Regions from separate parts of the Homo sapiens genome. Here regions 2, 3, 4 and 5 are each reported to be linked to region 1. The links are microRNA targets in miRTarBase. Many come from high-throughput screens and were not tested one by one. Region 1 holds a microRNA gene; each other region holds the end of a gene's coding sequence.

Region 1 (3,000 bases):
TCGATGACAGAGCCTCACAGTGCAACTCTGGGCGCCTCTCAAGTGCTCTCCCCACTACCCTCAACTCAAAGTTGAGGAAGTGCCACGTCGACCAGGGCACTTCCACCCTGCCCAGCTGAAGTGCACACACCATGCTGTGGCCCAGAAGCCATGTTGTTAAACAAAAATCAGGTAACACCACTTGCTTCTGGTGGCTTCCTGTGACACTTGGTCCAGGACTAGAACCTGGATCACAACTATCACCTGCCATCTCACTGTGTACCCACCTTGCCCTTGGTCTCCACACCCTCCAGCTGATGGTCATGCTGGCTCCTGGCATATACCAACATCCCCTCCTGACCCCCTCAGAAGTCCCCTCCCATTCCTCTGCACAGTGCCTGCTGCTCTGTGGTTTCCATAGCACACACCAGGATCCGCATCTGGGTCATGCATCAGGACGTCCTCCCATCCTGTGTTTCCCTCCTCAGATATTTCTGTCCTGTCCTCAAACATGCCTCCACCCAGCCCACTACCTGGCACCAGAGCTCTCTCAAAGCATTTCTGCTAAGGAAGCAACCACCCCTCCACTGCCCTGGAACACCCACTGCTTCTGACCCACACACGTACTTTTGAGCACTGTTTTAATCTTGGTCATCATCGGCTGCACACTTGTCTCTCCATCGGACGGATGGTCGCTGTCTCCGCCATATTTTTCCTCTGTTCGCCTCTTTTTGGGGGCACAAAGGCCTTCTTCCAGCAGAGCATCCACATCGTTGTCAAAGTCATCCTGCAAAACACGCTGTTCAGACACCAGAGCCCCTGGCGCTCATGCTCCTGCAACAGGAGAGCTCAACAGCATTCCTGAGAACAGACACAGAAAGGAGGTGCTCTCAGGGGGCCTAGATGTGCCCTTAGGGTGCATGATCATCTGAAAAACAAACAGGATGAAGCTACCAGCTGACACCAACACACCTGGTCCAGGGGCACACACTGCCAAGGAGCGTAACTCAGCAGCACCTGCTGCCCCACGCGCTAGATCAGGGATGCAGGGCCTACCCATGGGCCAAACTTTTCATTAGGAAACTTTAAAAATCTGGACTCCTTACATCTTTCTCTTCTCCACATTAACATTATTCCACCTCAGAGGGGATTTTGGTTTTTGTTTTTTTTTTTTTTAATTTCCCTGCTTTCAAAAGATGCTGCAATTCCCAAATCTCTCTTTGGGTTTTGCTAAGAGCCCTCTAGAGGAGGGGCTGCCAACATACCTCGTAGGGGAAATTCAAGGCCTCTTCATCCACTCTGTCTCTCTGAACGATTGCTTTAGCCGTGAACCCGCCTGCTCCTTCTTCATCTAGCTCCAAATTGTCAGTAAAATCTTCTAACTCATCGAGCACTGCATACTCCACTCTCTTTTCCTGATCCAGCTCATTCTCCTCATCCTTCTTATCAGCACTCTCACCCCCTATGCCTACCCCGTCACCAACACTCCCGCCAAAGGGACAAGCATGCACGTCCCCACTGACAGGGCTAAGGAGCAGACCGCACTCCGCCCGCACGTCGCGCTCTGCTCCTGTGTACAGCACCTTCCTGTCCTTACTCCTGCAGCTCTCGGTAAAGCTCACGCTAATCTTTACATCCTTAAGCAACTTAAGGTCAGGGGAGAACTTCCGGACCGCAGGTGCGTGCCGGGCGGTGCGCGGGCTGTGGCCACTACAGTTCGGGTCTATGAGGAGGCGGCCCTTAGAGAAGGATCCTTTGGAGAGAAGAGAAGCTCCGTAGAAGTTGAAGGGGTCCTCAGCAGGGAGTTCGGACTGTCCATCACCACCAGAGCCAACGTCCATTACCTCTGCACCACTGGACGTTTGCAGGGGAGGTGGTGGAGACTGCTCACGGGGCAGCGCTTGGAAGGGGCGAGCTCGGCTCTCCATCACCGCTTCTCCTGCGGGCCCACACGGGAGCGGAGAGGGGCTCTCATCTGTCTCCATATTAAAAGCGCTTAAGACTAGTTTACAAGACCAGAGTTTTACAAGCCCTCACATAAATCTACACAGCTAACATGCACAAGTCCGCTGAGACCCGGGCGCGTCCTGCCGCGCTGTGCGCTGGCGGCTTAGTCAAGCTGGCCACATTGCTCTTTTCATTAATGTAGACAGCTTTTAGAACCACTGCCTCAATTATTGGAAATCACAATGCACTCAGCTTAAGTGACTGGCGACTAAGCGAGTCTGTCTTCATGCCGGAGTGGCACCTTTCTTCTTCTACCTGCAAAGAAATTTAAAAATATCGTCACAAAATGACAGAAACCTTCCAATTCCCTGGTACCAAGTTAAAAGCCAAGCACTATTAACAGCATAGTAAAGGGCTTCAAAATAATATTCCCTAAGAGGACTTTTTAGGCATCAAAACAAACTAACCTTACTTTTATTCTTCAGAACCTGAATTATAACTTAAGTCCAAAGTTAAATATTTTGTTAATGCCCACTTTAATTCCTACTTCAGAAACACAAAAACTATATAATCATAAGGCTCAAAAAATATTTTAAAAATTTACACTAAACTCCACCACAGCATTCTTCTAACTCAGATAAGCAAGCATGCAGTGGGAGGCACCCTTTCTGGAACACACAGAAGGCGCGTGGCCTCCCTCAGGCCACCAGAGCACAGCAATCCACTCACCTGCAAGGGCTGGGTCAGTCAGAGGGCGAGCGCGAGACCCTCAGCTCAACTCTGCGGCACTAGGGGCCTCAGAGGCATGGCCAGGCGCTCTGCTACCCAGGGACCCCAGGGCTCTCCTGGGCCCACAGGGTAGCACGTGGACGGGGACAGTGATGCAGCGTGCTGAGGTCACCAGAGGTGGCAGCATAGTTCTGTTCCCGATGGAGGAGAGGGGTGGGTGGCTGTGGGGAAGGGACCTGCCAGGATTTGGGGTGGGGAGCCACAAGAGACAGCTGGAGCCGAGGCACAGAGAGGCCTGGGTGCCACCTGCAGCCCGTTCCGCCCTGGGGACAATAAGGAGCCACT
Region 2 (6,290 bases), not on the chromosome of region 1:
GATTCTCATGCAGCTGAAGTCCGAGGACCGCTCACTGATTCCACAACAACAGGCCTGTGCCCTGCAAAAATGTCAGGTCTGCGCACAAACAATTAGACCAAAAGAAGGTGGCAGAATTGTTTGGGATTAGAGAAGACGAAAGAGGCATGACATCTAAATGTAATGTGTGTGATCCTGGATGGAGGGAAATAGCCACAAAGGATATTAAAAGGACAGTGGGAATGACGTGAACATGGACCGTTTGTATCCAGACTTTCTTGAGTGGTCATAGTTAATGCTATTATAATTTTATGGGAGGTTCTTGTTCTCAGGAGATAAAGTATTTAAGCAGAAAGTGTCACAATGCCTGCAGCTTTTAAAAAACTTTTTTTATTTTCACTTTTTTTTTTTTTAGAGAGGGTCTTGCTCTGTCACTGGAGTGCAGTGGTGCCATCATAGCTCACTACTGAAACCTTGAACTCCCGGGCTCAAATGATCCTCCTGCCTCAGCCTCCCAAGTAGCTGAGACAATAGGAGTGTGCCACACGGCCCGCTAATTTAAAAAAAAATTTTTTTGTAGAGGCAGGGTCTCACTATATTGCCCAGGCTGGTCTTGAACTCCTGGCCTCAAGCAATCCTCCCACCTTGGCCTCCCAAAGTGCTAAGGTTACAAACATGAGCTACCACACCCAGCTGCAACTTATCTTTATATGTTGCAGGAAAAAAAAATGTGTGCTTGTGTGTGTTTATGTGTGAAGAAAGAAAGCAAATACAGAAAATATTTTCATTTGGTGTGAGAATGGAAGAGAATATGAGGTTTGTTGCACTATTCTTTCAGCTTTTCTTTAGATTTAAAATTCTTCAAAATAAAAACTTGAGAAAATTCTATACTTCGAAAGCTGTTAAGAAGGACGTGACTTGAGTACATTTGGAAAATATTCAAAAGAAGTAGGATCAGGATGAGTTTCACTTGTGGCTGATATGAGCCAACTTTGTTTTATAAGATAAAACATTGTTTGCCAACTCGGCCTATTTTCCTCCAATCTCAGCCAAAAAACCTAGAGTTGCACAGTGTTTCTTAAAAGCGCTGGGAGGTGAGGAAGTGGTTCCAGCCATCACCGCAGATGACCAGAATTAGGAGGAGTGACGTTGTGTGAAGAAATTTCGACTCCTTGTTGAACTTGCATCCTGCTGGTTATTTGAGCAGTTCTTAAAACCATTCACCAGGGTGGAAGAAAGTCAGAGCTCAGCCCAGGCTGCCTTTTCCCTGCAGCGAGCCTCAGCCCTCTCCCCAGCACGCCCAGCTCTCTCATCATGGATTATTCTTCAGCTCATTGTCTTAAGTCGTCCTGTGACACCTCCCAGTGACCGCACGCTGTTCTTCCTTTTCAGTGGTCAGCAAGTCCATCTGGGCAGCGCAGAGGGACCAAAGGTGTCCATCGTTGGCCTGGACGATTCTGGCTTCCTCCAGGTTCACCAGGAGGGCGGCGAGGTTGTGACTGTGCACCCGGACGGCAACTCCTTCGACATGCTGAGAAACCTCATCCTCCCCAAACGGCGGTAATGCCGGGCGTCCCCGAGACGCGGCTGCCTGTCCGTGCCCATGCATCTGGAAATCTAATTTAGAGTTGTAGGTGAATTTTCTTTTCCTCCAATTCATTTGTTAAGTCTTTGTTCTTTTTCTGTGTTTCTGTTTGTTTTTAGGTTTGTTTTGTTGTCGTTTTCTTTGGTGTTTGAAGAGGCTCTGGGATAGATGGTTAAGAAGTAGAAAATTTAGTTTAGGGAAAGCCCTCCCACAGGTGGGAAATTGCTCTCCCCTCTGTGGCTTGGACTTACGTTTATTGTCAAGGGGAGTTTTTACATGGAAATGACAATGGGAAAATTCAGATATTTTCTTAGTAGTGCAGACCTTTACCCCTAGTCTATGAAAAAACAAACCAAAATATGCTCTTGCGCCCAGGCCAGTGGTGAGTTAGAGGTATGCTATCACTGTTTGTAAGCATCTGGGGAGGTACTGAACTGTAAGAACATGCTTGGACACTTAGTCATTGTTCTGTGTTTTTATTAATGAAGAAAAGGGAAGACAGACTTCCAAGAGTTACTGTCCACCCGGTGGTGTGGCCCCATAGCGAAGTCTAAATGCCTGTAGAGATAGAGCTAGCTGGTGTGGTTGCAGTGACCTTGTAGAGGAAATCAGTTCATTACTTTGACATCATTCAGTGAGCTCTCCTTTCCTAAGGAAGTTTAAATGTCCTTAGTTAGGGACTGACTTTCTTAAGTAAGTTTAAATTTACTACATATTGTGAAGAGACAGGATCAAGTTCAGAATCCTTAAATGTCTGATTAGGCATCACTTGGATGAGGAGGTGGGCGATTTGGCTCTGACAGCTGGAGATGAAGGCACACTCATACCACATACAAGGGAGGATTTGGAGCTTTTAAGCCAGTTTCAGATTTACTCTGAAATGTGGAGCATTCCTGCAAGACTGTGCAGCTCACGGAATATAGAAGACATGGCATTTTACTCAGAAGTCATAAGTTTTTGCCCCCCTCATTTACCTCGTATTACCAAGAAAGAAAATGTTATCGATACTAAACACCATCAGTTCAGAGGGAGGATGTGTGTGTGTGCCCGCATATGTGTGTGCGTGCGTGTGTGCGCACATAGCTTTAAAAGAAGACATTCAAAATTTGATGTGCTACAAGCCTCATGAAAGAACAAAAGAAATGAAGCCTTTTGATATGCATTCGCTATTCCCAGATGTACGCCATGCCTTTTCCATGTCCCTCCTATCTCTGTTGAACTTATGAATCATACTCATTACTTTTCAGCTTTTTAAAAGGCCAATTTTTGTCCAGTTTTCTCTCTTCCAGTCCCAGCTGAAATTAGTGGAAAGAAAGTTTGATGGAGCTTTCAGCTTTGAACAAAATCCCTTCATTGTAAACTAGCACCATCTTTATCCAGGTCTTACCCAGTCAGGCTAATTCCAGAAACTTGTGGTTTTTAGTATAGTCTGTCTACCTTTAGCCAGGCACAGGACAGCCCTATGAAAAAATACCCAATATATATTTTTTGGAAATGAAACATTAAAAGAACTTAAAAAGTAATTTTTGGAAATGAGGCTTCAATTAGAATTATTTTTCTCAAAAAACAAACAAACAAAAAACACAAAAAAAACCACTCTTCTCCAAATGCCCAAGCCTTCTTTCAAAATTAGTTAGAAACTTAAGTAAAATACAAGTCCACACCATCCCCAAATTACAAAATGGACTTACCCTTGAGAGGGCATCTGCAGAATATCATCAGGGACAAAGATCTCGAGGCTAACGATGTAGGTTTCATTTCTCAGACTTTGTAATATAAGGCAAGCCCTCTCTCAGAGCTGCCATCATCACTTTTTGAATTTCTTTGGGGGTTATTTAATGAAAAACATGCTATGTTTTGTTTTAAGCTGAAGTCCTATTCTGGACACTCTGCTTTGGGAAAAAATGTTATCATTTAATTTCCTTTCTGCAAATTAAAACTAATGAAGTGTGGCCTTGTCAAAGGCTATGGAGATGTTCCGGGCATACTGCTGTGCTCTGTGCTTTCCAGCAGGCGCTCCTCCCTCACGCAGGAGACTCAGTTGTCCTGAGAGAGATGAAGCAGCCTTGAAGCAGATGCTGCGTTTTCCATAAACCTGATTTTGCCTCACATGAACCAAAGACTCTCAAAACTCCGCTTCTATAGAATTAGCTGAATAAAGGCATTTTACTGATAGCTGTTCGTGTTAGCGAAACCTGTCTACCTGCTATAGCACACTCTCCGATTTGGGCCATTTATGCACCCCGCAACCTGGGATCTCAAGGAGCTTTAAAGTCTTAATGGGAACTTGGCATTTTCCTGATGATCTTTAAAATGTGGTCACTAAACTCAGGATTGGCGTGTGCTTTTAGAACACTGGAGTAGCCCTTGTTTTAGAGGCTGTGCATTGAGTATCGACCGTATTTTGTAAAAGGCAAGATATCCTCCCTTCCAGGCTGGTAACGGGTTTCAAGGGGACTCTTGAGGAAGTGCCCCCTAAAATAGAACACAGCAATAACTGGGCTTCCTGTCCCCACCCCCACCCCAGCAGTGCTCTCTGGCACTGGGAACTCTGCTAGGGAGTGGTGGAAGTAGGAAGGATTTGTGTGCAAAGGAAAATCGTGGTTGAGTTTCACTGCAGCAGGCTGACGTTGCCTGATGTGAGAGCAAGTGGCCGACTGGGGTGCGGGTGCACAGGTCGGGGGAGCACAGGCCACAGAGCGCAGCCTCTGGGGGTCCCCCAAGGCACAGCATATACAGCATGGTCGCCCCTTGCCCTGGAGTCTGGGAACAAAGAGAGGAGCCAGCCTCCCCGCACTGCTTCAGATGGAAAAGGGAGGCAGGGTGGGCTTCCGTTCTCCAGATCTGTTTGCTCTTAACAGGCAGAACATGGGAGAATCCTTATTCCTGGTTAATCACTATGCATATTTGAAATAAAAGAAAGCGTAAGCCTCTGCAATTTTAACTTCTCAAAGGATGTCTCTGAAAAGAATCACTTTAAACCAATGCCTATAAAAAGCAAGTCTACCAAAATAAACTAAGACTTTCTATGTGGTTTGGGCTCCCTCTTATTTTTACAAGTTTCATTTTTAAAAGTAGGCAACTACTTTGGGTTACAGTATTTTTATTCATATTTAAACATTTTTACAAAATAAATAAAGTGTTTTACATAGTAAGGAATATGTACGTATTTCCAAGTATTAAGAAGCCAAGTGTTTTTTTTTTTGACGTATTATTGACAAATGTATTCAGCGCCATACACAAGAGAAATATTATTACTCCAAAGAACGAAAGTTAACAAAACTCCAAAGCAAAAACCCTTTTAATGGAGGTGAGAAATAAATTTAATGTAACAACAGCTAGATTGTTTTTAGGATTTTTCTTTTCTTTTGTGGAAACTTCTTGACTTGACTTTTCATCTGAACAGTTTTTCCCCCCAAGATTTTAATCTTATATGTCATACTTAAGTTTAGGAACAGCTTGAATAATTAGCATTCTAGATAACACAAGGGCCATGATTCACTAAAATTCCAAGCTACTGTAATTTTATGGCATTTATTTGCAAATGTTCTTTGTATCTCATTTTATCTGTAGCAGTCCCCACTAGTCTACCTTAACCATCTTATAGCTCTGGTAAATTAAAACTTACGTAGACTTTATACAAGATCCATTGGCCGTATTAAACCTCCCCCACTCTTAGGGCTTAGGGCGGAAGGGACGAAGGCAGGGCTGATAGGACTTTTAAAAGGATAAAAGGAGTGGGGGCAAGGGAGGCGGAAAATACAGGCTCTTGCAGATACCCTCCGCGCTGCCCTCCACACCCAGCCCACTGCTCTACAAAGGTATGAATGGAATGGCTTTTCTAGAAAAGGGCTTCCAAGAACATAAAGGAATTCCTTTCCCTGGGAGGCCCCGTGGAGGGCTGAGCCAGCCTTGAATTGGGCTTATTTCTCAAATCCATTTGATCTGGCATTTTTGTCAACATGGTACATGTTAGGGCCTACGATGATTTTTTTTTCTTTTTTGTAAAAGAGAGGCATATGTATTAAAATGCTTCCTCTTCCCCTGCCGGAGCCTCACAGAAGTCAAGAAACGCTATCCCCAGCTTAAATGTGCAGACTCTTCAAGATGGAGGTCACAATATTAGGTTGCCACAGTAACAGCTCTGCTGACTTCACACTCAGCCCTGGCCGTCCTGAAGCCAGCTCGTGTAAGAATCTTCCTTCATGTTCTAGGTTATGAAAACGAAGTTTGTTTAGACAAGGACGTTTTCACTAGTACACATTTTCAAGTACATACACACTCTGTTACGCCTGTCCACGTTGTCACTTGTAAATCTATGATAGGGTCTTTTTTCTCAACAGTAACCTTTGTTATTGAACTGCTCCGATAGCCTTGATTTATTTTTACTAAATACAGCCCCAAAAGTTAATAACAAGGTAGACACAAAAGCATTTTGCAGTACTTTATTGAAAAATGTCGGTGGTATCTCCTAGTAATCAAACCTACACCTTTCAAGAATCACGGTTTAATTACAAGACTCATGAACATAAAAAAATAATACCCTCGGCTTATTTCCTGTGCACACACTCACAAGGAGCTGTGAATGAGGTATAGCTGAGTGCGTGGAGAGGCGGGCACATCCCTTCCTACCATCCAGCCCCTTCGCTGCATGACCCACGGTCCTAAATTTGCAAATTGTGACTCTTACCATGAGGCCCACTGACAGACACCCTGTAGGGATTGT
Region 3 (6,290 bases), not on the chromosome of region 1:
GATTTCCCTTTGATTTTTAAAGGTTATTTTTGCTGGATGTAGAACTCTGGTTCAACAGTTCTTATCTTTAGCACTTAAAAAATGTTAAGAGCCCAGTCCACTTGTGCTGTAAGATGTCCCATCCATAATCAGGATTTGTCAGATTGCTTCCTCATGATTGGGTTGAGTTAAACATTTTTGGTAGAAGTACTACATAATCTTCATGTCAGGAAACAGTTAATATCAGTTTGTCTCACTTTTGGAAACCAAGTTGATCACTTCGCTAAGGAAGTAACTGCTAGATGTTTCCTTATAAAAAGGTACATTTTTCCTTTTATCATTTTTTTAAGCAATTTCTGGAGTAATATTTTGAGACCATGTGAATATCCTATTTTCCAATTATCTTGAACCCAGTTTTAGCATTCATTGATCATCCTTGAAATATTAGCTAGAGAATTACAAAATTCTGGCTTTACTAAATCTGTCATTCCTTCTACATTTATTAGCTAGCAGTATTCTCTAAAGAAGAGCCTTCCTTTTTTTCTTTAATTCAATGTATTATAAGCAATTACTGTCAGTATTGTTTTTGATGGTCAAATTGCCTTAAATTTGGCCAATAAGAGCCCCTTCAAGTTATATGTATCCTTTAAAACTGTCCCCATTTTAATTTTTGAAAACTTGTTTTATTGTATAACAAGATGGTCTGGGATTTTGTACTTTCTCTGCCCAAACCTGGAATTAAAACTACCCTGAGCTAATTTCTCATCTAATGGATTGCCAAAAATTCAAAAACTGAACAACACACTCTGTCTGCAAGGCTATAGGTGGAAGTTCAAAATGGTACAACTTCTTTGCAGGGGAATTTTGCAATATCTAATTACATATGCATTTGTCGTTTGATGAAGCAATCTCCTCCTCATCTAAGAAGATTTCAAGAATACCAAAAAAATACATACACAAAGTAATTCTCTGGGGCATTGTATAAAATAGCTAAATATTGAAAACAATCTAAATACCCAACCACAGAAGACTGGTTTACTCAATTATGGTAAAACCAAGTAATGGAGTACTATACAGCAATAAGAAATGAATGAAGAAGGTTTCTGTGAACTGATACAGAATGATTTCCAAGATATATTGTTAAGTAAACAAAACATAGTACAAAAGCATTATATAGCATAATATTTTTGGTTGTTTTTTAAACCTTATCCTGTATTGTACTTATTAGCACTGGAAAGTGGAAGAGGTCTCTGCTAATTAGGGTGGAGAATTAATCACCTACTGGGTTTCCTTCTTTTCCCAGGATTGCCAGCAGTGAGTATCCCTGTTGCACTCTCAAACCAAGGGTTGCCAATAGGACTGCAGTTTATTGGACGTGCGTTTTGTGACCAGCAGCTTCTTACAGTAGCCAAATGGTTTGAAAAACAAGTACAGTTTCCTGTTATTCAACTTCAAGAACTCATGGATGATTGTTCAGCAGTCCTTGAAAATGAAAAGTTAGCCTCTGTCTCTCTAAAACAGTAAACATATCTTACAAATTAAAATGACTTTTAGGCTGGGTGCAGTGGCTCACACCTGTAATCCCAGCACTTTGGGAGGCCAAGGCGAGCGGATCATGAGGTCAGAAGATCTAGAACAGCCTGGTCAACATGGTGAAACCCCGTCTCTACTAAAAATACAAAAATTAGCCAGGCTTAGTGGCGGGCATCTGTAGTCCCAGCTACTCAGGAGGCTGAGGCAGGAGAATCACTTGAACCCTGGAGGTGGAGGTTGCAGTGAGCCGAGATCATGCCACTGCACTGCACTCCAGCCTGGGTGACAAAGCAAGACTGTGTCTCAAAATAAATAAATAAAATAAAATAAAATGACGTACAGAGATTCTATATTCTAGAGAGTCAAATGGTCTTGCTCAATTCTTGTAATTAGGTTCTTGTTAATACAGTCATTCCATGGAATTACTTTTTAAAATTCCTGTGACAATTAATAATAAATAACGTGTCAGCATTTAGTAAGCATCCACTAAGTGTACAATACTTCTACAATAACACAAGATACCTGTTCCTCAAAGACAATGCATTCTGCCATAATGTTCATTAAAGAGTTTACAGTAAAAATAAGATTAGGGATAAACTTCTCAAAAATTGTACATCTGTGTAACTAAAGCACTAACAAAAACATGAATAGTCCTTCTAGAGGTAACTTGGATAGCCTAGGCAGGCAACTTATCATGTGGTGAAGGCCGCCTCAGGGGTTGTTAAAAATGCACAGAAACAATTGAGTGCGATTATTGGCTTCTGAGCGCTGAGCAGAGCAGGTGGAAGAGGAACTTTGAGCACAGGAGGAAATGCAACCAGTCAGGGCCCAGAATCATGCAAATCTCAGGGGTATGCCTCTCTGGGGAGGAGCTCCACTTGCAGGGACTCCTTTTATTTCCCTAAGAAAGAGCTGAAATGACTGAGAACTTTCCTTTCCTCCTTAGAGTTACAATTTTACTTCTGCTATTCCGGAGCCCATGCCTAGAAGCCAGAACAACTCCATGTTACACTGAGTTCATGCTCCTATTTACTGATCACAAATGAGCTCATTAATGTCATCGAAACATTTATTGTAACCTAACAGACCATCACAGATTGGAAACTTGGTAGATAGCAGAGCATGGTATTAGTGAAAAAGGTTCAAAATACACAAGTAACATACACTCTGAAAAACATGCAGATAATTTGCTGATGAAGCAGAAGAGGGGATGCGCATGGCAAGAACTTGCCTTACCCCAGATTCTCTATATCTCATGGTTTCCTTTTCCTCTTGACTGTCTTTACGAGTGTTTTTTATTTGGGACCCTCGAGCCCAGAGATATTAATGGATATCTGTATTCAATATTTGACAAAATCTAATGGAAACCATCCATTTACTCATGATAAGGCTTCATCACTGGATTTCTGTGTCTTCACTAGAACACCATTGTCATCTCATATTGATCAGGTATTTTAATCTAGCACTTACATATTGTTGATAAATGAAAGCTGAATTGTTACTTAATAAATTCACTTTGTTTAGTAAAAAAAAATTGTTTTCTAAATATGACGTTCATGAAGAGAAAATAATGAGTCAGAATCATCTGCAGAACCACTGGAATGTTTCATCGTCACCTGTTAGTTTTCATAAACAGTTTTCTGTCCTCTCTGAGATCCTCCCGCTCCCAAATACTCAACCTGATTAACTTCACATAAAAGTCTTATGTGCCAGGCTTAGTAATATTCCTATAGATTTTGACTCTGAATCCCTGAAAGAGGAAGAAATCCATGAGAGAAAATTGCATTACTTTATAGCAAGAGGAAACCGTTTTAAGTTTTTTAATTGCTCAGACACCACAACATCCTAGATGGAGGAAACCATTTTAGTTGAAGGAGCAAATATGATGTCAAAAGCAAGTAAATAAACAAACCGTTGCCCCAATCTGTTTTTATGTAATGAATTTAAAAAAAAAGAGAGAGAGAGAGAGATGGGCTCTCCCTGTGTTGCCCAGGCTAGTCTCAAACTCCTGGGCTCAAGTGATCTGCCTCCCTCAGCCTCCCAAAGTGCTGAGATTAAAGACGTGAGCCACCACACCTGGCCGAAATAATAATATTCAATATTATATATTCAATGATATTATTCAGTATTCAATATTATTTCAAATAATATTAAATCTCTTGTTCCTGTATCTCTACATGAGCTGCACTAATAATTTGAATCTGGAAATTAAAAAGTGAAACATTTACCGTTCTCATATACTGATACCCAACTACCATGAAATGATACCTAATTTGTTTTTCTTTTCTCTTCATTTTTACTCTTAATCTAGTAGGTCTCATTTTGCCAAGTCACTGTCTGGGAATTTAAGTGGCAAATACTTTCTTTGTCTCAGCTAATTAAACTCTAAAATTATTAGCAACAGAACTTCCAGAACAGAGTGTTTTTGAAAGGTGAAGATGTCTACACGTGTAAGATGAGTTCCTTGATAACACCTGAAAGACCCAAACCAAAGCAAAAGTTTGAACACGTGTCAGAGTGAAAAAATGATGTGATCATAAAACATGGTGCTCTGCCACCACAGAGAGCCAAAGGAGCAAGCGGGAAAACCACTGTTCCACGCTGGCCCACACTTAGCGTTACCAAAAAAAGCACCTGAAACCCAGGAGGCAGAATGTTCCCTTTGAGTGGCTGACACCGGGTCCTCTGTGATGACATCAGACTGGGCTGTTTAAAATTAAAGATGGCATGGTATAGAAGAGGAGCTTGCAAAATGACAAAAAAAAGTGCTTATTCCTATTAGGAAATAGCTGCACCTCCTAATGTAAATAAGTAACTTTAGGATTTTAAACAGAATCTGAAGGATAGTGAAAAGAAATAAGCAGGTACTAATAAGTAGACCTCGGGATTCAGCAAGCCGTGTGCCATACCTTATTTGATTCAAAGCAGGGGAGTAGGCCAGGCGCGGTGGCTCACGCCTGTAATCCCAGCACTTACGGAGGCCGAGGCGGGCGGATCACGAGGTCAGGAAATCGAGACCATCCTGGCTAACATGGTGAAACCCCATCTCTACTAAAAATACAAAAAATTAGCCAGGCGCGGTGGCAGGCGCCTGTAGTCTCAGCTACTCAGGAGGTTGAGGCAGGATAATGGCATGAACCTGGGAGGCAGAGCTTGCAGTGAGCCGAGAGTGCACCACTGCACTCCAGCCTGGGCGACAGAGTGAGACTCCATCTCAAAAAATTAAAAAATAAATAATAAATAAAAAGCAGGGGAGTAAAATAATGGAACTTTAAAAATATCTCTTATTATAAATTTTCATTCATTAACTACTTTTAATCCCCCTCCCTTTTATTATTATTATTTTTTTTTTTTTTTTTTTTTGAGACAGGGTCTTGCCCTCACCCTGGCTGGAGTACAGTGGCACAGTCCTGCTCACTGCAGCCTTGACCTCCTGGGTCCAGGCAATCCTCCCACCTCAGTCTCCCAAGTGTGGCACCACCAGGCCCAGCTAATTTTTTTAATTTTTTGTAGAGTCAGGGTCCTGCCATGTTGCCCAGGCTGGTCCTGAACTCCTGGGCGCAAGCCATCTGCCCACCTTGGCCTCTCGAAGTGCTGGGATGACAGGAGTGAGCCACCGTGCCCAGTCCCCCTCCCTTTCTTCAAACATCTGGTTATCTGTACCAAGGCACAAGCCTAGGAAAAGACATATCCGTTGTGTTTAGAAGGACCCAGAGGAAGTTTAAAATAGAAGGCTTTCCTCAGTTATTTAATAACTTAAGCAATGTGTACACTAGAACATAAACCTGAAAATTTAATAAAGGCAAATAACACGAAAAAAAAACCAAAGGCAACATTAAGTAAAAGTAATTACTACAGGATTTCGGAGGAGCTTTTTTATTTATTTTTCTTTGTACCTCAATAGAATATAAACCCAAAAATATTTTAGGCAGTTTATTAAAAATATATTATTACAATTGTATAAAAGTAAATAGTTGAGGAAATCCATGAAGTGATAATAAAAGTGAGGAAGAAGAATAAAACCAGAAATAGATTAAAAACAAAAAATGCTTGTCAGGGTATCTATATAGATGCTTAATATTGGGTAGTATATGATATGGTGGGAAATTAGCTTTCCTAGTGGGGTAAGGCCACCAGATTTAAAAATCAGACAACCCTGAATTGAATCTTGTTGCTGCCATTTCCGAGCCGCGTAACTTGTCTTGAGTTTCAGTATCCTGACCTGTAAAATAGGGATAATATCCACTCCTTGGGGTAGTCGGAGGGATTAAATTTAAGTGACACACTGAAAGCACATAGCATGATACCTGACAGAATAAGCACGCAATATTTTGTAGCTATAAATAAATGCATGCAATCATGAATTTCAGTCATTTTCTTATAGAGGCCTCACAGTAAACTCTTACAGACGCCACAATTTGGCATGTGGCCAAATTATAATTTACTGAAAGCTTATACCAGAGACCAGCTATATATTTCCCTGATGATCTGGCCTCCCCTGAGAATGAAGTTTAAAATATCTGGAAGAACTGATAGACTACATTTTTTTTTTTTTTATGGAGTCTTACTCTGTTGCCAGGCTGGAGTGCAGTGGCGGCAATCTCGGCTAACTGCAACCTCCGCCTCCCGGGTTCAAGCAGTTCTCCTGCCTCGGCCTCCGAGTAGCTGGGACTACAGGCACGCGCCACCACGCCCAGCTAATTTTTGTATATTTGGTAGAGACGGGGTTTCACCATGTTGGCCAGGATGGTCTCAATCTCCTGACGTCGTGATCCGCC
Region 4 (6,290 bases), not on the chromosome of region 1:
TGTGGTAATTAACCATAGCCGGGAAAGGCTGAGCCCCATTCTCAGAGCCTTATGTGCGGCACCTCATTTCATCCTCTCAGCAACCCGGGGGGTCGGTATCATCACCCATTTCGCAGATGAAGATCAGTGTCTCCCGGCTGGGAGAGCTGGGAGAGCTGGCAGAGCTGGGGTTCAACCCCAGATGTGGGGGACTCCAACCTGAGGCTTTCCCTCTCCCCCCGTATTTGGCCAAAAATTCCAAGCACGGTCGGCAGTCTCTGGCCCAGATTCATGCTTGATGCTCCAGTCAGCAAAAGGAGCTGACCTCAGTTTACCAATCCTTAAGATGAAGACAACGTCTCCTTCTACTAAGCAGGATCAGATGGGCTTCAGGGGCCTGGAGCCTTGTCGCCCACGCCAGGGCTAGGGAGGGTGAGCCCAGGCTCTCCCACTCCACACGCAGGGGCCCCAAATGCCCCCTAAATAGACCCGGGGAAACCGGTTTCTACCGCCTTAGAGTCTGGGGGCAACTTTCCCCACTTTGATGCTGGCTCAGTGACTCGGCGACGGGCCTAAGGATGCAGCAGGGGCAGCTGGCACCTGGGTCTAGGCTTTGCTCAGGGCCCTGGGGCCTCCCCGAGCTCCAACCCGCTGCGCCCTCCTCATCAGCCGCTCAGCTGCCCTGGGGCGAGAGCTGGGGGGAAGAAGCAGACACTCCTGCATGTCTTTCTGCTTCTGGGGTGCGTTCCTGCCCTCTTCAACTATCCCAAGCAATGGACCTACGTTACTTTTCTAACTAACTAGGGGAACAATTATTTATGAAGTAGGGTGAGGGTCTATGAAGCCCAGAGTAGGGACTGCTCATAAGCACCTTCCAATGAGCACCGGGGCTAAGCCTTCCACCCGCGCACTCCGCATCTTCCACCGAGTTCCCAGGTGGAGGAGGAGGAGGAGGAGGAGAAGGAGGAGGAGGGGGAGGGGGAGGGGGAGGGGAGGGGGAGGGGGAGGGAGAGGGGGAGGAGGCGGCGGTGGAAGAGGAAGCAAATGGTGGGGGCGGGGGGCGGAGGGGAGGGCTGCCGCGCTCACGTTTTTAAATTTTATTGTCCTTCCCCAACAGAAACGTGAATGTGACAGTCACTCCGTTGTTGAGCCATTTGTTTAGCTGTAAAAGCAGGATGGCTGTTCTCGCGTCCCGTGCGCGCTGTGCCCCTGTGCCCTTCACATTCTTTCTCATCGCAGGTGTGGTTCCAGAACCGCAGGACCAAGTGGCGGAAGAAGAGCGCCCTGGAGCCCTCGTCCTCCACGCCCCGGGCCCCGGGCGGCGCGGGTGCAGGCGCAGGCGGGGACCGCGCACCCTCGGAGAACGAGGACGACGAGTACAACAAGCCGCTGGACCCCGACTCGGACGACGAGAAGATCCGCCTGCTGCTGCGCAAGCACCGCGCCGCCTTCTCGGTGCTCAGCCTGGGAGCGCACAGCGTCTGACGCCCGCCGTCCAGGCCCGGGATCCTGGCTGCAGCCTGCGGGGGGACGCCGAGGAGCCTACCTTCCCCTCCCCTTCCCCACGCTCCTGGGGGCGCAGGGACTGAGTCTTTCTTTGGATGAGGGGCGCGTGGAGGAGGAGCAGCAGGTGCAGGGGAGGAGGAGGGGAGGCGGGGGAGGAGGAGGAAAAGGAGGGAAAGGGGACAGGCATCCTAGCTAAGGGAGGAGGAGGCCAGGAGGGAGGCACAGCACTCCTGAGACCTGGAAGCCGCTGCCCCTTGCACCTCCTCGGGCCTCGCCTGCCAGTTCTGCAGATTCACAAGTGGACAGAGGACTAAAATGACCAGGCTCTGCAGCCAAGAAACTGGCTGTGGGGTCCCAGACATGCCACTGTGATCCAGCTGTTGGGGCGGGGGGAGTGGGCAGGACTTCCCAGGGAGGGAGGCAGCTGGCTGGGGAGTCAGAAGTCCAGAGTCTTGGGCCCCAAGCCAGCTGCTGGCTGCAGAAGAAAAGACAGGTGAGTGGCCAGGTGCACTCCTCAGACCTGTGCACAGGAAGGGTCCCACTGGAGGGGCCAGAGCTGAGCACCTAACCCAGGCTGCAGGAAATCTGCCTCCAGGAGGGGAAGTGGGACATCCCAGTGGAGAAAAAATGCCCCTGACACTGCAGGATGACGGCCCCTGAGCTGCGGAAATCCCCCTGGCCTCCTTTCTCCGATTTACCCTCAGGGTCAATACCTCTGAGACCGCTGTGCCCTCCTCATCCTGACAGCCGGGGAAAAGGGGAGGGTGCAGGGAGAGGGGAGGCGGGGACGGTGTGCCCAAGGGCCACCCACCTGGGCATCATTTGGTGCTGATATAAGGACAGGCCCACCCAGAGAGAAAAAGCATCCCACCTGGGGAGGAAAGGAAGGGCTGGGAAAGACCCCAGAACGGCACCCCTCCAACAAGGCAGGAAGGGAGAAGGACAGCCCCTCCGGCTGGGTGGAGGATGCCAGGAAGGGGCTGAACCACGGCCTGCTGGGAATCACGGCCCTTCCTTTCCTCAGATCGCCTTGCGGCCTGGCACTGGAGCTGGTGCTGACAGGGACGCTGGCCAACAGGGTGGTATTTTTCACCCGGGTGATCTGAGCTGCTGGCAGGTAGGGGGTGGGCTGGGGGAGGCGGGTGAGGGCTGGTCTTAGATAGGAATGCAGCCCAGAAGGGACCAAGCACTTGCCCATCCTCACTGGCTTTCAAAAAATAAACAGTAAAAATAAAAGTCCCATGAACCTTACGGCTCCTGTGCTTCTGTGAAAGGGACCAACGGCAGGAAACTGGCTGTGAGGTCCCAGACTTGCCAGCTGTGGGGCCTTCCCCGAGGGCCGTTGTCTAGTCTCCTGGGGACATTCGTGCTCTGACAGGTTGCACAATACAAGTTATTTGAAACCTCACTGGTAGATGCCAGACACTGTCCCCAGGTGCTGAGAAACCCAAGGTGAATTTTATGGGGTCCCTGATCTCCAGGAATTTATAGCCTAGTGGGGAAGATGATCTATGTGGAGAATTGGGTATCATAAGAAAAATAAGAAGGGAGAGACTAGAAGAGCTAAGTTTAACAGAACACCTGCTAATTTCTCCCCTGTAGAATGTCTGGATTATCACTGACCCCACAAGAAAACTAGGCAGTAGGTATCATCTTCAATGCATGGAGGAGAAAACCAAAGCTCAGAAAGTTCCTAAACCAAGTCACAGAAGTGGGACGAGGCAACCTCAGAGTAGATCCCAAGGCCCTTTCAGCCACTTCCTTGGGTTGTGAAGGGCACCCTTCGAAGCCTTTTCTGTCAAATGAGAGGCTAGAACCAAAAGTAGTTTAAGGCCCTTCCAACTTCAACAATCTGTGCAACTAGCAACTAGGCTTGACCCCTTTGCTCTCCCAAGAAGTCCATCCTTGGACCCCCAGACCCCCAGGATGGGTGAACCTGGCCCTGGAACCAGCCCGAGAGGGGATGAGGGTGGAGGAAGACCCTAGCTAGGAGCATCTCAGAAAGTAGGGCACCCACCTTTCCTAAGACCCTTAGAGGACCCAGAGGACAGAGAGGAACATGACCAGAAAATGCAGAATGTGTATAAATTTCCACCCTCCATCTGTGAAGATGCCTATGCTCAGGTGTCAGTCTTTTCCCTTGAAAAGCAGAAAGGAGAAAAGAAGGGAATGGAGCACAATCTCTGTGTGCACACTGAGAAGCCGTGCTCTGTCACAAGTGTCCTGAATGGGTCCTACAGTGGCTGCAGCAGGAGAGGACCCTAGAATTCAGCACAGACTTCAAAGATAAAAAGTTTCTGTGGTTCTGGGAGGCTTGTGATTCCTGAGTGCTGCAGGCAGGAAAAGGCTATCACATAGCCCAGGTGCAAAGTCACCAAGCAGGTATGGAGGAAGATGCAAGTGACATAAAAACTGTGTTTACTTATCTTTTTCTGAAGCATGCTGTAATCTTAACTGCTCTGTTGTAGCTATAATTCCTGCATGTCTGATTCAAGTCATTTGAGGTCAGTATGAAATCAAGCCTGGGGAAAGTTTTTCCCAGGAGATATTTGCTGAGCTAAACAAAACCTCCTTTGACCTCAAAGTTCTGGGATACCTGCCACTGGAACCTTTAGCTAAAAGACTACAGCCTTCTGGGCCATTTCCTCTAATCCCACACCACCTTCCATGTGCAGACTGAACATAGGGCCAAGCACAGGAGAGGCACTGCCCCCCATTTCCCTAACAATCATGCTGAAGCATATTCAAAAGACTAGATTTGGAGTTCAAAGGAGGAGAAAACTCATATGTGGAAGACCCAGATTCCCAAGGGTCATTCAAGATAAGTCTGGCCCTCTGCAGATGCACACACATGTGAATGCATGTGCATGCCTGTGTGTGCATACATGTGTGTGTTACTTGGGAGAACACAAGGCTATCTCACTTCATCCATCATAAAGAAATCATAAGCCAGCCAGGCGTGGTGGCTCACACCTGTAATCCCAGCACTTTGGGAGGCCGAAGTGGGTGGATCACTTGAGGCCAGGAGTTCGAGACCAGCCTGGCCAACATGGTGAGAAATGGTGAAACCCTGTCTCTACTAAAAGTACAAAAATTAGCTGGGCGTGGTGGTGAGGGCTTGTAGTCCCAGATACTCAGGAGGTTGAGGTGGGAGAATTGCTTGAACCCGGGAGGTGGAGGTTGCAGTGAGCTGAGATCATGCCACTGCACTCCAGCCTGGGTGACAGAGTGAGACTGTCTCAAAAAAAAAAAAAAAAAAAAAAGAAAGAAAGAAAGAAAGAAAGAAAGAAAGAAAAAGAAAAAAAAATCATAAACTATAGGCCCCACTTTTATCCCTGCTCATAAATAGAACTTATTGTATATTCTGGGTTAAATGAACAAACATACAAAAAGCAAAAGAACTTTGGAAATGCATGCTCCCTGCAGCTCCTCTCTTACCACATCACAAACTTTTCAGAGACAAAAGGAAAGAAATTAAGTCCCACGTCCATGACAGCTGTGGTGTCTGCTCTGACAGGTGGCTCCATGGGCTCCACCAAGTAGGGACGGATTCTGCCATAGCTGTCACCTTTGTGGCTTCTGCTATTAGCAGGACCTGGGATATGTCTTCAGCAGGTCGGGGCGAGGGTGGGTGGATGTCCATGCCTTACCAGGCTCACAGTGGCCATATCCTGATGGTAACAATCAGAAAGTAGACAAAGAGGCCGGGTGTAGTGGCTCATGCCTATAATCCCAGCACTTTGGGGGGCCAAAGTGGGCGGATCAGCTGAGATCAGGAGTTGGAGCCTAGCCTGGGCAACATGGTGAAACCTCGTCTCTACTAAAAATACAAAAATTAGCTGGGCGTGATGGCAGGTGCCTGTAATCCCAGCTACTGGGGAGGCTGAGGTAGAAGAATCACTTGAACCCAGGAGGCGGAGGTTGCAGTGAGCCGAGATGACTCCACTGCACTCCAGCCTGGGCAAAAGAAAGGTGACAAAGGGCTGAAGTCCCACTTCTGGTAACCCCTCCTCATCCTCGGGCCACCCCTAGGTTTTGACCCCAGAAACCAGCTGTCCCCGCAGCATGGGTTAGGGGAAAGGAGTCAGTTAGATATGGGCTCAAACCATAGCTCCACCACTCTCTGTATCATTGGGCCAGTTACTTAACCTCTGAGCCTCGGTTTACTCATCTATAAAATAGGAATAATTCCACACACCTTGCAGGGTTTCTGTGAGATTAGAACTAATGCATGTGCCTGGCATACACAGACAGTAAACAGTAGCCCTGTATTATTCAGAGAAGGCTTTGATGTGAGTGTCAGTGTCCCCTCCAAAATTTACATGTCAAAACTTAACTCCCACGGTGACAGTATTGAGAGGTAGGGCCTTTGTGAGGTGATAAGGCCATCAGGGCTTCATCCTCATGGATCAGATTCATGCCCTTATAAAAGGGCTTGAGGGAGTGAGTTTGGCCCTTTTTGCTCTTCCATCCCTTCCACCATGTGAAGACACAGCATTCAAGTCACCAACTTGGAAGCAGAGACCAGGCTCTTGCCAGACACTGAACCTGCCAGCGCCTTGATTTTGGACTTCCCAACCTCCAGAACTGTGAGCAATAAATGTCTATCATTTATAAATTACCCAGTCTCAGATATTTTGTTAAAGTGCCACAGATGGACTAAGACGAAGGCTGGCAGTCCTGAGTTTGAATCCCCACGTCACAAAGTAGTAGCTGGGCTGCCAGGACTGGTTAGTTAAGCTCTTCAACTCCACTGTTCTCATCTGTAAAATGAAGCGGATGAACCACTTCTGCAAGACAGATGA
Region 5 (6,290 bases), not on the chromosome of region 1:
ACACAGGGTGACTGAGGCCCAGAGCAGGGCAGTGACTTGCTCATGGTCACAGAAAGGGCTGAGCTGAGACTAGAAGCCAGGTTTCCTGACTCCTAGGCTTGTGTTCCTGCTCCAGAGCTGGCCAGAGAGATAGGGGCTGAGGAGGAGAAGGGTGAATTAAACACAGCCAGGCTGAGATGGGTGGGCACTGCCTCCCCAGCTACTACCAGAAAAAGCTGAAGGAAGGCACCTGCAAGGCCCAGGAGATGGAAGCGGCCGTAGGCCGGCTGCGGTTGCAGAAGCTTCCCTACAACCCCCAGCAAGAAGAGAGCTCAGAAGTTCCAGAACGAAAGGTCCTCAGTATCCTGAGCCGGCTGAAGCAGCAGAACTATGGTGAGGGCCCTGGGCAGGGTGGGATGGGCTAGGGTTGGGGCTTTGCTCTCTTGCCCATCTGGTCTCCTTTCCTTGGACCCTCAGGCAGCCAGGCCAAGGGAGCTGAGAGGCCAGTTTCCCACTTCGGGCTTAACTGTGTACATCAGAAAACAGGCTGATAATCACTATTTTCCATCCAGGCCTATGACAATGGCCTCCTGCGTTGGACTCCTCCCCTCCTGCCTTAGCCTGAGCACAGGTTGGTCCCATGAGCCAGGACTGAGAAAGAACAGCTGTAGAGATTAGCAATCCCAGCTCACTGTTTATTGAGTGCCCACTGTGCTAGGCCCTTTGCAGATGCTCTAGAATTTAATACTCATAATCATGTATTTACCCCATTTTACAGATTAGAAAAATGAAACTGACCCAGGCACAGTGGCTCACATCTGTAATCCCAGCACTTTGGGAGGCCGAGGTGGGCGGATCACCTGAGGTCAGAAGTTCGAGACCATCCTGGCCAACATGGTGAAACCCCATCTCTAAAAAATTAGCCAGGTGTGGTGGCGAGCACCGGTAATCCCAGCTACTCTGGAGGCTGAGGCTGGAGAATCGCTTGAACCCGGGAGATGGAGGTTGCAGTGAGCCGAGATCACGCCATTGCACTCCAGCCTGGGGGACAAGAGCAAAACTCTGTCTCAAAAAAAAAAACAAAAATGAAACTGATAAAGTTCAGCAATTTGCCCAATGCCCCTAACTAGTGTTTTGGAAAGGGGAGTTTATATCCAGGTCTGACCCCAAAATCTATGCTCTTTCCACTGGGCAAGCCTGCCTCCCTTCCCCCAGGTACCATTTATTAGACTCCTACTATGTGCCAAGTAACAGGATAGGAGCTTTGCAGTCTTTCTAGAGCATGCCTACTAGACTTTGCCAACACCCATCACAAAGTCCTCTGCTCCTTGTTAAGCTGTTACCAGCTCTTATTCTGTGTGCAGCACTGAGCTGAGTGCTTTGCATATATTTCTCCTTTAATCCTCATCATCAACTTTTGTGAGGTGGGTACCACTATCACCTCCAGCTCAGAAGCTTAGAGAGGTTAAGTGACTTGCCCCAAACCACTCAGGTCATTATGTAGCAACGCCAGGATTTCACTTGAATCTGCCTGCTTCCCAAGGCTGGGCATGCTGTGAAGCATTCCTCCTTCTGCCTCCTTCTTCACCAGCTCCCAACCTGCAGAGCCCCTATGCCCAGGTGCCCTGCATCCTGCTCTGCCCACAGCTGGACAAGAAGATGGTCCGTAGGCAGCCGAGCAACCACTATGCACTAGACCAGTGCACACCCCCTGGCCTGGATCCTGACATCCGCAGCCCCTTCTTCCAGTCAGGATCTCAAGGAAACAGGTGGGTGCCCAGAGAAAGGGTCCCAGCCCAGGCCCTTCCAGATTCTTCCTTAAGAGGCCCCTGGCCTAATGCCTGGGAATCCATCTTTCTAAGAGATCATACCTGAGAGGCTGCTTGCTCCAGGGAGGAGAAAGGGTAAAAGGCGAAGAAGACAAACCTTTGTTGAGGGCCTGTGTACCCAGCAGATTGTTCCACTGAAGCCAGAGTGCTTCTGCTTTCCTGTGTCCAGGACTCAGTGGCACCTAACTGAGTACTCTGAGTTCCCTATGGTTCCATATTAGGACTAGCAGACTGTGCACCTGGGCAGAGGGGAACGTCTCCTGCAGCAGTCCCCCTCCAGGCCGCTGGGGAAGGGAGCTCTGGACTTGGAATCAGGCCCCTAAGCACAACTGCTGGTTCCACCATTTCTGAGGGGAGGCCTCCTCTCTCTCCTCACTTGGGCACGCACAGATGGCTCATATACTGGCAGATAGGGAAAGGGCCACATGTCTCCCACCCTTCTGCCCTACTCCTCTCCCCAGGGAACACAACTCTGACAGCAGAAAGTGGCTCAGCTCTGTGCCAGCTCGAACCCACTGACCCTCTGGAGGCCTGACTCTAGGCAGCTGCTCAAGGCCTGTAGACAGATGGGCCACCAGGCAGGAGCTGCTGCTGGGATTTGCTTTTGTGGCCTGGTGAGCTAATAAACACCAATAACTTCAGCCTCTGTGCCTCTTGCCAAGAAAGGCCCTCAAGTTGTCACCCAGCCACCACTGGGCTCTCAGAGTGCAGGGTTCCACCTCAAAGCCCTGCGCGGGGTTGGGATTTCTGCTACAGGTGCCCCTGCGTGCAGTCTTGACCTTCTGTGCCTTCTCAAAGCACAGGGCTAGGCCTCTCCTCAGGTGAGCACATCCCCCTCTGGACTGGGAGCCCCACAAAAGCAGCCATTCTCTCTCTCCACTGGCTCTAAGACAGGCCCTGTGGAAGAGCAGGAGGTGGCCTCTGCATGCTCCCCCGACAGAGCCCCAGGACCCAGGGCTCTCATTCTCTGGGAGCCCCAAGAGGGGTGGGTCCTTTCCCCTCAACCCACATACCACCCGGCCTCGTGTTTTACCAAAGACAGTCTTTCCCTGGGACTGGGCAGAGGGAAATCCCCCAGGGTTAAATAAGCGGCCACAGCAAGAGGTAGAGGGCAGGGACTGAAATGAGGACAAAGATCTGACAAGTTTAAAACATGTATTTAAAATACAATTTATAAAATGCTTAATCTGCCGACTCAGGAGCCCGCGGTGCAGGGTGGGGTGGGAGTGGGCAGCTGCCCGCTACACCAGCAGAGTAAGACTGCAGGGGTGCAGCCCTCCCTCCCATGCCCTTCTGTTCAGACACCCAAGGGGCCCATGTGCACCCCTGGGATCACACGACCAGAAAACAGGACCCCAGAGGTTTCTTGAGTCTCTGCTTACCAGGGAGGCTGGGTACAGCCCTGCCAGCCCATCCCTGAGCAGGGCACCCCCAGATGGGGCAGAGCAGGGTATGGCTGGGCAGGGCAGGGCTGGGCGGGGCAGATGGGCTCTGGAAGGGGCTGATGGTAGCAGATAGGGTGTTGCCTCCTGCCTGCAGGTGGGGAGCACCCTGATTGAGTGGGCTGAGAAAGGTTGGTCACCAGGCCTGGACCCCCCAGCTCCTTTGGTTATAGGCTGACATCAGAGTAGTGGCTCATGGGAAGCGGTTAGCTGGAAGGTCTGAGGCCTGGCCCATGGGGTCAGGGAGGAGCTGGGGGAAGGGGACAGTACCGTGAAGGCAGATAAAGGGGCAGCAGCCTCAGGTTTCTGCCCCCCATCCCCCTGGGGTTTTCCAAGCCAAAGCCTGCAACTTACTTTAAAAAAGAAAAGGAAAAAAAGCACTTAGGAAAGTTACAGACAACTACCCCCAAAAAATACCCTCCCACACACAAAATCCAAACCGTTTCCTCATCTCCCTCCCGCCTCCCCCGACACAATACAGTTTCCTGTTTTCTTTCTTTTTAAAAACGTTGCCTGCTACCTCTCCATTTGGGAAGCCCAGGGCATGACTGCTGGTGGGTGGTGACAGGCACACAGCGGGCAAAGCCCATCTTTGGCCAGAGGGAGGTGGGAGGACCAGTCCCTGCCACATCCTCAATCCACAGACACCCACCAGCCAGCCTTTACTTTGGCCTCCCACTAGAGGGTAGTGGGGCAAGAACAGGTGGTCCCAATGGCTGGGCAATCAGCACTTCTGGCGTTCCCACCTGGACTACCTCTATACCCTTCTCCAATTAAAAGGAAAGTCTCACTTTGGGCGGGAAACCACTATTACATAAGGGATGGACACTACACATTTAGAATGTGGACACTTGGTTAGGGCAGTGGAACTATAAAGATAGCAGCCAGTTTTCTTCCTTGCCTTCTCCTGAAGGTAATCCTCCCTCTTACTGACTGAAGCTCTGGTTCCAGCTCTGCTCATGGGCAATGCCTGGCTTTACAGTTATAAGGCTGTGCTATGGACTAGCTGCTGACTCAGCTGGCAGCTGGCCCTTCCTCCGGAGGAGAGGACGTGTTGGGGCATGGCTTACTGGGCCTGGCCTACCATTCCCACAGGGAACCAACGAGGGAGTGAGCCTGTGAGACTCAGCTTGCCACCTTGGCCACCACGTGCTGCCCTCATCACAAAAACCACACCAACCACTCCGAAACGTATCTGCTGGTCAGGAGCAGGGAGGCTGTCTGGCTGGCTGAGGGATAAGGCGCAGTGCAACGGAAGGGATCAGGAAGCCTGAGAGGAGCCAGGTACACACAGCTGCTCTGGGCAGCTGCCCTCTTAGTCTCTTCCACCTCAAGGAGCCAAAGCAAACCCCAGGCTCCAGGGACAGAGGATAAACTGCCTTCATTCCAGGCCCTCGCTCTGGAAAAAGGGGTGACGGGTAGCCTAGGCCTCTGAGGAACCAGTCTGTCATCAATCTTTGCAAAGCAAAGCTGTTCTTTTTCCAACTTTATTCAGAATGTTCTGCCTTCAAGGTACTGATTGCACACAGGAAATGTACCAGGTATAGTTACTGAGCTGGGGCCACCAATGGAGATGGAGCACTGCAGACCCCTAAGAGTTCAAGCCATGCTGGAGTGGGAAGACCTATCCACCTTCTGAACATACGAGGCAGAAGGCTCAGAGTCCTGGAGGCAGACTCTCTCCTGGTTTTCCTTGTGCTGATGGCAAAATACTAAACAAGTCTTCTCTCCGTCACTTCTAAGCCCAGGGATGCAATCTCACTCCCTGGCACTCTGCTTTCTTCTAGAAGTAGTAAGCCTGGCTGGTAGGGAACCACCCTGAGGGGTATGGGAAGGGGAAGTCGGTTCACTTTCCCTATCTCCCAAAATACTAGAGGTGGGGTTGGCACCCTCCCCAGGCTCTCCGAGCCTACAGAGCTAGCCCAGTCTCCAGGCAAGGCCCAGATGCCCTGGGACTTAGCTCGGGGAGGGAGGTATAGGCATGGGGTGCTCGTCTGTCCTGGCGGCTGCAGAGCCCTGCCCCTTTTCTGGGCGGCAGTAGGAATACAGAAGCTAAGCTCACCAAAATCCTATTGGTTAATGTTTCTAGTGAATTTCCCAGAAACATTTTTAAGTAGACTACCAAACTACCCTTTCTTAATTAAAAATTCATTAAACCACTAAAACCCCTCCCATGCACTTTTTCTTGCAAATCAGATATTTGTATAAACAAACAAAAATAGGAAGAAAAAAAAAAGAAAGGATATTTTCAAATGGAACTTACTTTTTAAGTGATGGAGACATGCACTTGGGGGTGGGTGGGTGTGAGTTTTCATTTGTGTTTTGAAATCCCAAATTAATGAGCATGATAAACTGTTATTGCTGGCACTGGCTTTACCCCAAGTGGCCAAGTGGCACTGTCTGACTCTCTGAGTCCTTGCTGGGTCCCCCCAACCTTCCCCTAACCCCCACCCTTTCCCTTTCCATTGACTTGGGACAGCCCTTGTCGATGTGCCAATCACAGTGGGAAGGGGGAGAAGGGGGGAGGTCACAGTGCATGGGGTTCAAGGTCACAGTGGGCGGAGCAAGGGGGATCACAGTGCAAGTAAGTCAGGTCGTTCCCTCTGCTCAAGTCCAGCTGTCTGCCACGGCAGTGCAACCCGTGGCGGACGACCCAGGAGGCGGTGACGGCAGCAACGGCGGCATCTTTTCTTGCCTGCATTTATCTGCGCTGTTTGAAGCCTTGAGACCCATCAGGACCCAAAGGCTGTCTGATCACATTATTGGGCTGCCTGCTGTCTTCGGGTTGGGAGATCCTGGTTGGCCTGAAAGGAAGAAAAGCAGAGGAAGGCCTGAAGAAGGATATAATAGATGTCCCCCATCATTTCTTTATTTTTTATTTATTTTTGAGACGGAGTCTCATTCTGTCACCTAGATTGGAGTGCAGTGGCACGATCTCCGCTCACTGCAACCCCCACCTCCTGAGTTCAAGTGATCCTCCTACCTCAGCCTACCGAGTAGCTGGGACTACAGGCATATGCTACCACACCCAGCTAATTTT

The links. Region 1 holds the annotated microRNA hsa-miR-1306-5p (CCACCUCCCCUGCAAACGUCCA, at 1,835-1,856, opposite strand). A microRNA usually pairs through its seed, bases 2 to 8, with sites in the 3' UTR of a target mRNA and lowers its output. Matches are read on the target gene's strand: a 7mer-m8 pairs with bases 2 to 8, a 7mer-A1 pairs with bases 2 to 7 and ends in A, and an 8mer does both.
Region 2: miRTarBase lists HLCS as a target of hsa-miR-1306-5p. Seed matches in the 3' UTR shown: 7mer-m8 at 2,342-2,348 and 8mer at 4,871-4,878.
Region 3: the mRNA of QRSL1 is a reported target of hsa-miR-1306-5p. Seed matches in the 3' UTR shown: 7mer-m8 at 1,739-1,745.
Region 4: miRTarBase lists NKX6-3 as a target of hsa-miR-1306-5p. The part of its 3' UTR that is shown has no 7-base or 8-base seed match.
Region 5: the mRNA of SPATA21 is a reported target of hsa-miR-1306-5p. The part of its 3' UTR that is shown has no 7-base or 8-base seed match.

Annotation. Positions count from the first base shown.
Region 1 is chr22:20,084,928-20,087,927 of GRCh38, reverse strand. MIR1306 (microRNA 1306) reads right to left here and starts at 1,870; the gene lies at 1,786-1,870. It overlaps DGCR8 (DGCR8 microprocessor complex subunit), which reads right to left. Exons shown (of 14, transcript NM_022720.7): 2 at 1,245-2,241; 3 at 607-766. The coding sequence starts at 1,964. MIR3618 (microRNA 3618) reads right to left here and starts at 2,182; the gene lies at 2,095-2,182.
Region 2 is chr21:36,749,499-36,755,788 of GRCh38, reverse strand. HLCS (holocarboxylase synthetase) reads left to right here. Exons shown (of 11, transcript NM_001352514.2): 11 at 1,372-6,290. The coding sequence ends at 1,543. It overlaps SIM2 (SIM bHLH transcription factor 2), which reads right to left. Exons shown (of 11, transcript NM_005069.6): 11 at 5,872-6,290. Among named protein-coding and RNA genes, the nearest start is that of SIM2, 54 kb to the right of the region's middle. RefSeq lists enhancers at 5,054-5,578, 5,579-6,104.
Region 3 is chr6:106,664,500-106,670,789 of GRCh38, forward strand. QRSL1 (glutaminyl-tRNA amidotransferase subunit QRSL1) reads left to right here. Exons shown (of 11, transcript NM_018292.5): 11 at 1,283-3,918. The coding sequence ends at 1,503. Among named protein-coding and RNA genes, the nearest start is that of LINC02526, 28 kb to the right of the region's middle.
Region 4 is chr8:41,641,623-41,647,912 of GRCh38, reverse strand. It overlaps NKX6-3 (NK6 homeobox 3), which reads left to right. Exons shown (of 3, transcript NM_001364841.2): 3 at 1,219-2,736. The coding sequence ends at 1,464. Among named protein-coding and RNA genes, the nearest start is that of NKX6-3, 6.0 kb to the left of the region's middle. RefSeq lists a silencer at 1,124-1,353 and an enhancer at 2,668-2,727.
Region 5 is chr1:16,394,802-16,401,091 of GRCh38, reverse strand. It overlaps SPATA21 (spermatogenesis associated 21), which reads left to right. Exons shown (of 13, transcript NM_198546.1): 11 at 200-372; 12 at 1,571-1,748; 13 at 2,270-2,449. The coding sequence ends at 2,327. It overlaps SZRD1 (SUZ RNA binding domain containing 1), which reads right to left. Exons shown (of 4, transcript NM_001114600.3): 4 at 2,947-6,054. The coding sequence ends at 5,952. Among named protein-coding and RNA genes, the nearest start is that of SZRD1, 31 kb to the right of the region's middle.